Linked DNA regions of Homo sapiens: region 1 is linked to region 2. The links come from fine-mapping of genetic effects on gene expression. A gene starts in region 2. The other region holds a variant in brackets. All regions are shown on one strand. Distances are from middle to middle.

Region 1 (5,364 bases), 23 kb before region 2:
ACACTTGCCCCCCTAAGGTGTGGGAAGGGACTTCCTGGGGCTCATTCAGAGTGTGCAGAAACCACCAGGAACCCAGCTGTCTGGCCAGGGCCTGGGATGTCCCAGGCAGAGAAGGGATGCTGGGGAGCAGGAGGTCAAGGGGAGGACATCTTCCCTCCTGCCAGGCCTGCCTCTTTGGTAGCCAGGAGCTGGATCACCCACCTGCTCCACCCTCAGTACTCTTGTGGCTCTCTACTCCCCCAGATACAAACCAAGCCATTCCCCAGGCTGACCAGACCCTGGCCCTGTCCCATCTCCAGCCTCCACACACACACTGGCCTCTGCTCCATGTGGGCTGCCTGGCGGCTCCCACCTCCAGCCCTTTGCATGTCCTCTCCTCCCCTCAGAGGCTGTCTCTCTCCCCTCCCAAAGCAGGCTCTCTTAGTCCTTTCACTTCCGGCATCACCTCTTCCAGGAAGCCTTCCTGGATCACGGCTCCCACCCACAACTAATTCTCAGAAAAACTCTAGTAAGTAGTAGGAATTAAGAAATGATCTGCTTATGCAATGAGTAAGTGAAAGCATCAATAACTGGTGGAGACGAAAGGCAGCTTCGGGGAGGCAGGAGCCAGACTGACTCCACCCAGCCTCACTTACTGGTTGTGTGGGAGTCTACACAAGTTTCTTAACCTGCCTAGTTCTTCACCTGGAAAACGGGATAAAAGTAGTACCCACCCCTAGGTGAAAAGAGTTAATATTTGGAAGAGTTCAGAACAGTGCCTGGCACATTGCAAGTGCTGAGAAGTACTTATGAAATAAAAACAAGGTCAAGAGGCAAACCTCACCTTGCTAAAGGCAATTTACCACCTATGGAGGCAGCCTGGGCCCTGCCTGAGGGGTGGGCAGCCCCAGCACAGGCATATCCCGAGGATCCTGCCTGGGAGCCCGGGGCCCAGGGCTGGGGACTCAGGGAACTCTGCCTCCATCGGCTTTGTAGCCCTGGGCAGGACCCGCCTTCTCTGAGTCCCCATGAAGCTGGGCTGAGTGCTCGAGGTCTCCATGTGTGAGAGAGCTCCGGGAAGGGGCTCTGCCCTAAGGGTCCCCCTCCCAATCCCCCTCAGCCTCACCACCACTTCCTGCCTCTTGAGCTGACTGTCAGAGTGGCCCCTAAGCCGGCCTCCTCCAGCCTCTCACGGCCCTGTCAGGGTGCCTCCCTCCCGCCCTGGCTCTCTCACTCCCCAGAGGGGGTGAACACAGCCCTGTACACAGATCTGTGGCCACTCTTGGACGGGACGCACACGTCCGACCACACACTGCACAAGTTCCCGCAGTGTAAGAGGCAGGGTCTGTGGCGCTGGGACCAGGCAGAAGTGTGGCCCCAAACAGCACCCCTGGGAGCCCCTCGGCATCATGCTCTGGCCAGCAAAGCCCCTGCGGCAGCGGCAGCAGCTGTGGCTGCCATCATCCTGGACACCATGTTGCCTTGAGAGGCAATTGTTCCTTCCCCCATTCCATGGGCACTTTCCCAGTTATGACACAGGATGATCTGGTCCCAGTGCTGTAATGGGGAGTGGGGATCACAGGTGGGGCAATGGAGGAGCTCTGAAAGTGGCTTTGGATATCTCACTACCCAAAAGGAAAGGCATTAGCCACCATGGCCCCAACAAAACTAAAATAAAAAGGAAAGGGGGTCAGGCACGGTGGCTCACGCCTGTAATCCCAGCACTTTGGGAGGCCGAGGTGGGCAGATCACGAGGTGAGGAGATCGAGACCATCCTGGCTAACACAGTGAAACCCTGTCTCTACTAAAAATACAAAAAATTAGCTGGGCATGGTGGCGGACACCTGTGGTCCCAGCTACTTGGGAGGCTGAGGCAGGAGAATGGTGTGAACCCGGGAGGCGGAGCTTGCAGTGAGCCGAGATCGCGCCACTGAACTCCAGCCTGGACGACAGAGCAAGACTCCGCCTCAAAAAAAAAAAAAAAAAAAAAAAAAGGAAAGAGGCCTAAAAAATGTACAGCCAATTGATGGGTCAGGTGCCCTCCCACAACACATGGAGCAAAACATTTGGAGGTAATTCAGCAGAGAAAACAGAAAATGACTCATGCCAGCAATGGCACTGGTGAGCCAAGGCTGGAGAAAACATTCTTCCTCGACATTCATCAAAGAAATGCTGACGGAAACTACCCACACAACTTGTAGCTACTGTAAGAAACAAATGATAAACAAATGGTCAGCACTCAGTGATGATGCAGTTACCAGAAAAATATGGCCACATTCACTTGTACCAGAGCTCCCAGGGAAAGAATGTGGTCATAAAATATTCAGACTGTTGGGCCTAAACAATCGATTCCTAGGATCAGCCCCAAGAGTTGTGGTCTTGAAAAAGAAAAACAGCACTAAGCAAAAAGACACTGACCACGCCTGACCACTCAACAGGGGAGGGTCTAGCAGATATTGGAAGCTTTGGAATAATGGGCTGCTGTAAGGAATGATAGCCTGGAGGCCTCAGACCACCATGGTGACCTGGAACGTGTTGCTAAGTGCAGAAGTATCAATGGCAGCATTTCGGCTACATCCTTGTTGATGTAATACACACTTGAAGCGTCAGGAAAGGAGACAGAAAGGTGAATTCCTTCCCTGCAGGTGTTGGCCAGACCCAGCACGGTGTGTGTAACCCAGGGCCACAGAGACCACCATCTCCTGTGCCTCAGTTTCCCCATCTGCATAAGGTCGTAAGAGTGGCAACGACAGTAACAGCCAGTATTCAATGAGCTCTCACCCTGGGCCTGGCGAGAGAGGCACACACCCGGACTCAGGTAACCTCAACAACTTGAAAGGGTGAGCGCTACTGCAATCCTCACTTTACAGGTGAGGAAACCGAGGCATGGAGCTGTTAGTCATACAGTGAGGCCATGAGGGCTGGGACCAAGTGCACTGCAGCCTCGAAAGACTCCAGCAGGAGGGCCTGAAGGAAGGGAACACAAGCTCAATGATGTCGTC[T/A]GGATGCCCGCCCAGACCCCGGTGTCTAAGCGCTGTTCTCCACCCACAGAAACAGGGCTCCCAGAGCAGTGGCCAACCGCAGAGATGGGCACAGAAAGCATGAGATGGGCCTGGAACATCTTGTGCAAGGCAGGAAGCACTCACAGACTGATGGGGATGGATCAGAAGGACACAGGCCATGGCTTGGCAGAGCTCCTACTGCCAAGAACTGGAGCCCACAAAAAGTGTGCTTGAAAATAATGTGGGGGAAGGGGCATGAATGAGGTTGCCTGGCTTAGCTGGTGACCATGAGAATGGGAGGCAGGGACAGGAGATCTGTGACAATATTCTACTTTTGTGTATTTGTGAACTTTTCCCAAAATAAAAGTTTCAGAAAAGAATATTCATGAGTTCATGTGATGCTAAAACAACAAAACAAAATCAAAAGAAAGGAAAGAAAAAAACAGCTCATCCTCATCCCTGATAGAAGGAATGTCAGAAGTGCAACAGAATTAACAAAGTCACCATTCTGTAATGCCCAAGGCAAGAGCGGATCTGGCAGGATCAGCCTTGCACGCTGAGACCACAAGTCAGAGGCCGCTGAGACAGTGGAGGGACACTTGCAGAGCCCCTTCCTCAGGCTCTGACAGTGGAGGGACCTGGGGGGCTTCGCCTCAGCCAAGAGACCCCATTCCATGTGGCCCGTGGGGGCAGCCTGGCCCATGTCTGTGATCTGCACATGTAGCCCTGCACCAGAAATGCAGAGCCGGGCCTGGTCACACAGAAACACCAGACAGACGCAGACAGGAGCCTCTGCATGCGACCACTGGCCTGGAACCCTCAGAAGACTATGCCATGAAAAACTGAAGGCCCATACCAGTTTAAGGAGCCCAGAGACCTGGTGGCTGAGTGCTGCGTGTGATTATGGACATTCTCCACTCAACAGGCCACGTGCAATCAATATTAGATTTCTGTTAGTTTTGTTTTTTTTTTTTTTTTTTTTTTGAGACGGAGTCTCGCTCTGTCGCCCAGGCTGGAGTGCGGTGGCACAACCTTGGCTCACTACAAGCTCCGCCTCCTGGGTTCAAGTGATTCTCCTGTCTCTGCCTCCCAAGTAGCTGGGATTAAAGGCACACTCCGCCACACCCAGGTAATGTTTGTGTTTTTAGTAGAGACGGGATTTCACCATGTTGGCCTCGAACTCCTGACCTCAGGTGATCCTCCCACCTCAGCCTCCCAAACTGCTGGGATTACAGGTGTGAGCCACCAAGCCTGGCCAATCAGTATTAAATTTCTGGACTCAGAAAAAGAATGTCCTTATATTGGTTCAGGGCAAAAAAATGTATGTGTGTATTAAGAGAGAGAGAAAGGAGAGGGACAGAGCACGGGAGGGAGAGCAAGTGACTGCAGCTCAGTGCAGAGCCCTGCTGGGTGTAGGTGGAGGGAACACAGGTGTGTAGAAGCTTCAGCTTCCCTGGAGGGTGGACCCTCCAGATGAAAACACTGCTGGGGGCAGTTCTGAGTCCTAGAATGTCAGAGTCAGGACAGAGTGCTACAAGGACCACCAGCCTCTTGTTTTAGAGATGGGAGTTAAGGTTCTGGGTGGGCTAGGCGTGTGGGAGCAGCAGGCTCTCAGCGTGTGGGAGCAGCAGGTGGCCCGGGGCCTGACCAAGCTGGACCCCTTGTCCCCCAGCATGTCCCCTACCCAGACCCGGGCTCACGTGGTGAAGCTGTGGTTGTCGTGCGCCTGGCTGGGCCCGCTCACGGGTTTGTTGAAGTGCTTGAGGCCAAGGTATGCGGCCTGCACCGTCTCCAAGTCCTCATCTTTCAGCTGGGACCACAGCTGGGCTGACCTGGAGGAGAGTTTGGGAGGAAGGACTCTGAGCATGCAGGTGTATCCCTGACGGTGGTGGAAACAGGCTCCATGTAGGCCCAGGGCACCGTCTGCAGGACCAGTGCAGGCTGGCAAACCTCTCAAAGAGCTGGGCAGTGGATGTTTTTGGTGTGGTGAGACACATGATTTCTCCCACAGCTAAACTCTGCAATTGCAGCCCAAAAGTAGCCACACACCAGTAGACAATGAACATGGCTGTGTTCCAATAAAACTTTACTTACAAATACAGGTGGTGGAAAGTTCTAGGGCTGGACAGTGCTAATGGCTGCACTACATCGTGAACATACTTAATGCTACTGAACTGTAGACGTTAAAAAGGTTAAGTTTTGGCCAGGCGCAGTGGCTCATGCCTGTAATCCCAGCACTTTGGGAGGCCGTGGCAGGTGGATCATGAGGTCAGGAGCTCGAGACCATCCTGGCTAACACGGTGAAACCCCGTCTGTACTAAAAATACAAAAAAAAATTAGCTGAGCATGGTGGCGGGCGCTTGTAGTCCCAGCTACTCGGGAG
Region 2 (5,364 bases):
ACAGGCCTGGCCCCAACACTACATGTGGGTGTCCCACAGCCCTGGCTGTGTGTCTTCAGGTAAGTCACTTGCCCTCTCTGAGCCCATCTCCACATGGAGGGTGAGCACAGGCTTCAGAGCCACTTCTGCCTTCCATCTCCAGGCTGAGCAGCAGGGTGGCCTCAGGATGTGGAAAGCACACAATCCTCCATAAAAGAGCTGGGCTAATTCCAAATGAGGAACATGTACTCCCACATCCCTGGTGGAAAACCGAGGGTCCGGGAACCTATGCCTTCTACCAGCAGCTCTTTCGATGCCAATGGGTGGCAGGAGGCCATAGCCAGGCATCACAGGGTGTGTCTGCCTTGCTTTGATTTACACATGCATTCACGGGGTCTCAGTTTCTCCTCTGTAAAATGGACACAGTCCAGTTCTGGGGCAGGAGTTCAGGGGTGAAGCCAAGAAGGCACCAGCAGAGCATGCCTCCTGCTACCCCCTCTCCAGGCCCTTCCTCCAAGGCCCTTCCACGGATGCCAGGGGGGTTACCTACAGCCACTGGAACCCTGCTTTCCTGGACAATCTCCCAGATCAGGGAGTGCTGGGGCTGACCTGGGAGCAGGGCCAGGGGCCAGTCATACAACAAACATGATAAACTCCTACTCTGAGCTAGTCTCCCCCGCGCCCTGCCCTTCTCCCAGGGCGCTCATGGGAGATGAGGGAAGACCACTTCCTGCCTCTCAGGAAGATCAGTCTGTCCACACTACTGTGCTCTTCATATCTACTCTAGGAAAACCAGTGGTAATGGCCCCATTTTAAAGATGGTGGGAAAAACACACATCCCCGTGCTATGTTTTTGGTTTTTGTTTTGTTTTGAGACAGAATCTCGCTCTGTTGCCCAGGGTGGAGTGCAGTGAGGTGATCACAGCTCACTGTAGCCTCGAACTCTGGACGAAAGCAATCCTTCCACCTTTCAGCCTCCCGAATAGCTGGGACTACAGGCGCATGCCACCATGCTCAGCTAATTTTTTTTTTGCATTTTTTGTAGATACGGGGTCTTGCTATGTTACCCAGGTTGGTTTCGAGCTCCTGGACTCAAGCAATCCGCCCACCTCAGCCTCCCAAAGTGTGGGATTAGAGGCATGAGCCACCACTCCTGGTCAGTGGTGTTTTAGTGTCAAATCCTCTCCAAAGGCTCCCAACCCCCCAGCCTCTAACTTCACAGCACATTTCACAGAGCAAGAAACTGAGGTCACATGGCAGGGGAGTGATGGAGTCCAGATGATGGCATCATCCCTGCACCAGAACAAGTACCCTCCCTGGGCTCCACTGGGCCTGTCCACAAGCTTGGGGGCAGGTATACAGTGGGGAAACTGGGGCACATGGGGAAACTGAGGCACAGAGGTACAGCGACTCACCCCAGGTCACAGGGGGGATCCTAACCCAAAACTCCAACAAGGGGGCCAGTGCCTGGGAAGTGGTCATGGTGGTCAGAGGCAGAGCCAGGGCCAGGCAGGATGAACAAGAGCACAGGGTGCCAGACTAAGCTCCATTCCCAGCACAAATTCCAAGGCAAACAGCCTTTTGTATGCAAATATGCCAGAGCCTCCAGATACTCCCTGGCCTTGGGCTGACCTTGGGCAAGTCAAGGCTATCCAAAGGGCACTGGCACCCACGCCCCCAGGCTGTTGTGCCAGTAGAAGGGGCTCCTCAGGTAGTACCAGGCCCTGGGCAGGCCTTGCTCAAACACAGGAGCAAAAGTGCTCATCACCCCAACACCAAATTAGGGACTCTGGACATTAGGCTGCCAGAGTCAAACTAAATAAACCAAATCCACCAGCGCCAGGAACAAGTCTCAGCGCCCACTTTGCTGAGCTGCGGACCTCTGCTCGGTGAATTAGCTCCCTGAGCCGCAGTTTCCCCAACTGTGAGAGGAAGCCATTCTCCTGCCACCTTCCTGCCAGTTCCCTGGGGCTGCAGGCTGACAGTGTGACCTGGTCCAGCCCACCCCACTCCGGGCCTCAGCTTCCTCCTGCGCAGAGCCTTAGCCCCGCAACGCCTGAGACGCCCAGAACCCTCAGGCCTAACGTTCGTGGGCAGTGGCCGCGGAAGTAAGCTTTTGGGATATCTGAGACCCAGAGTTCCGGTTTGGTTCCGTTTCTAAAAGGGTTAGACTTTAGAATCATTCAAGGAGCAAGGCCAGCATTCGAACCCCGGAGCCTTGGGCACGGGAGCAGACAACTCTTTAAGCACATTCTTGAATTCAAACACTTAAAAGTAAAATAAAAAGCAGCTTCTCTTCCTTCCAAAGGCCTCTGAGCCTCCTCCGAGACAGCCGAGGCGATCCCAAGCCTGGCTACAGGGTGACCTCGGACAGCCACTCCCCTCTCGCAGGCTCAGTTTCTCCATCTGTAAAGTGGAGCTGCGCTGGTCACCAAGGAATCGTGAAGATGACACCTCCCTCAGGCGCAGAGAGGGCTCCCGGCTCCCCCCTCCCGCCCCCGCGCCACCCGCCCGCCAGGTGAGGCCGGTTTCGACTTCCCCGGGAGGGGCGCGGAGGGGCCCGGAGCCTGCGGCGTGGAGAGGCTTGGCCGGCCGCGCTGTCCGCAGACGCCCGGGACCAAGGCGCTGCGGCCACTCGGGAACGGGCGCGCGGGCTGCTGCGTGCAGCCGCCTGGTTTCGAACTGCTCGCTGCCAGGCTTCGGCTCCGCTAGGGCGCCTGCTGGGCCGGCGGAGGGTCGAGGAGGTTCGTCCTCGGGGCAGATCGTTGCTGTGGCCCCCACCCACGGCTGTGCGGCCCCGCGACCCCCTCCCCTCGGCTTTCCCGTCTGTGAAATGGGCGCAGAGCCCCGCACGCGGCCACTCGGCCCCAGCCCTCACCTGTGCGGTTCCCTGGGGCAGGCGTGGTGACCCCGGCCCGCCCCCGGGGCCTCGCCTTGCCACGGAGGGTGGCGGCCGCCCAGCGCATCCTGCGCGCTCCGAGGCGCTTGGCGGGGTCTGCCAGGGGAGTGAGCCCGGCTTGTGGGGGCGGGGCCTGGGCCTGGGCCTGGGTGAGGGGCGGGGAGGCCCCGCCCTCCACGCCCGCCCAGGGGCGGTTCCATGCAACTTACAGACCACGCCCACACGTTGGACTGGGGCCGAGGTCCGGCCGGGGGCTGTGGGCGGGGGCCCTTGGGGAGACCAAATACCCAGCGGGCCAAGGCAGCCGGCTGAGCGGAAAGTGTTGCTACTCCGGGGCGTTGCACGCGTGGCTACCTCTGCCCAACACCCTTCCCCCATCCCTTCCTGTTCTCACCTTCACTCCTAGTGTGGTTTTTCCATGTGCTTCTGTGTTTTTATTTTTTGAGCAGGATTTTGCCTTCTCAGGGTGCCGGATTCGGCCGGTACCAAAGGGCAAACAGCAAAACGCCTCCCCGGCCCGCCCCTCCCGTAACCCACTCACCCCCAGAGTCCTGTGTGGACCCAGCCTTCTTTCCCTGTCTCTCACTGGGCCAGGCCGTCTGAGGCACACTGAGGTCTGGGTGCCCTTGTTGTCTTCGGTTCTCACTGAGGGGCCCCCGGCTGGGGGAAACAGGATGGAAAGCCCTGGGGTCTGTCTGCAGGGCCCACCACACCTGGAGGCCTCCCTTCTCCTGGCTTCCCCTTCCCACCCAGCTCCACTTGCAGCAGGCCCAGAGCTGTGATCCGGGCTCTTTCTCTCCCTCTGACCCCACCCAACCCAGGCTTAGCCCCCTGCCCAGGCAGCCACCAAAGGGTTGGGTGTGGTGTCAGGCCTCAGACATCCTGGATCTTGGGCTGCTTGTGGGAGACCACCTGAGCCATGCCTATTCCTGTGGAGCTGGCAAAGGCAATCCTGGCAGAGGGAACAGCAGGTGCAAAGGCCCTGGTTTGGCAATGTGTGGCAGCAGAAGCCCAGTGCGGCTGGCTTAGGCATGCCTCCAGGAGCGCAGAAGGTGGCCCAGGTGGGCCAGGCTGGCTCTAGAGTGCCTGGCAGGTGACCGTGAAGAGTGTGGATGTTCAGGTGGACCATGAAGCAGGGTTCCAGCAGGGCAGCCCCTCCCCGTCTCTGCTTTCCGAGCCCTCCAAAGCTGAGGTTCAGTGTGAAACGTGAGGGGCCCTCCCCCTTTCGCCATCAGGGTTGGCGTCACCCCTGATATGTTCTTCCCACTTGGACTTGTGGGTCACACACGATGGCTTACTTCAATCTCCTTTATTCAAAATCAAGCATGTGTATTCTTTCTGCCATGTCGGGAAGGGCAGGGCCATCAGCAGTGCCCACTCCAGACCACACTCTGGGACCCCAGAATGTCTTGCCAAGTGGCCCCTAGCCCACCTCTCAGGCCTGTGTGGTCCCTTCCCTGGTTTTGCCCACCATGCACCACCAGGCAGAAGGCCACTGCCTGTAGGTGCATGGACAGGGCTGGGAGGGAGGTCTGGGGCAGCCCTCCAATAGCTGGGTGGAGCTAGGTGGGGATGGAAAACACCAGGCTGCCTGCAGCTCCCTAAGCCACCACGCTGTGACCCAGGCCTTCAGGAGCCTTCAAATGCTAAACACCTGGCCATTTAGGAAGTGTGTTTCCTAGAGCTGTGTAACATAGTACCCCAGACTGGGTGCCTGAGAACAACAGAAATTTATTGTCTTATGGTTCAGGAGGCCAGAAGTCTGAGATCAGGGTGTCGGCAGGCCTGCAGTCCCTCCAAAAACTCCAGGAGAACAGCCTTCCTTGTATCATCCAGCTTCTGGCAGTTCCTTGGCCGGTGGCAACTTAACTCCTGTCTACACATGGTGCTCTCCCTGTGTCTCTCTGTGTTCAAATCTCTCTTCTAAGGACACCAGTCATATTAGATTAGAGCCCACCGTAATGTCCTCATCTTAACTTAAGACCCTATAAAGAGTCTGTAAAGACCGGCCAGGCTCAGTGGCTCACGCCTGTAATCCCAGCACATTGGGAGGCAGAGGCAGGTGGATCATAAGGTCAGGAGTTTGCGACCAGCCTGGCCAACATGGTGAAACCCTGTCTCTACTAAAAATACAAAAATTAGCTGGGCATGGTGGCGCGTGCCTGTAGTCCCAGTTACTTGGGAAGCTGAGGCAGGAGAATCACTTGAACCCGGGAGGCGGAGGTTGTGGTGAGCTGAGATTGTGCCACTGCACTCCAGCCTGGGCAACAGAGCAAGACACCATCTCAAGAAAAAAAAAAAAAAAAAGAAGAGTCTGTAAAGACCTTGTCTCCAAATAAGGTCATATTTGGAGGTACTGAGGGTTAGGACTTAAACATATAGATTTTGGGGGACACAGTTCAGCCCCTGACAGGTGGGATCAAGGAGGAAAGAGCATGTTTTTCTGAGCAGTCTGTCGCTTGGTTGGGTTGTGGACATTCAGGCTT

The links.
Region 1: its variant is fine-mapped to the expression of SUSD3 in whole blood (INTERVAL, PIP 0.95).

The regions. Positions count from the first base shown.
Region 1 is chr9:93,078,920-93,084,283 of GRCh38, reverse strand. SUSD3 (sushi domain containing 3) reads right to left here. Exons shown (of 5, transcript NM_145006.4): 4 at 4,682-4,813. Among named protein-coding and RNA genes, the nearest start is that of CARD19, 15 kb to the left of the region's middle. RefSeq lists an enhancer at 1,129-1,757. The variant T/A (reference allele first, on the strand shown) is at 2,982.
Region 2 is chr9:93,056,324-93,061,687 of GRCh38, reverse strand. It overlaps SUSD3 (sushi domain containing 3), which reads right to left and starts at 2,987. Exons shown (of 5, transcript NM_145006.4): 1 at 2,858-2,987. The coding sequence starts at 2,945. RefSeq lists enhancers at 813-862, 931-1,911, 1,912-2,892 and silencers at 2,403-2,812, 2,823-3,272.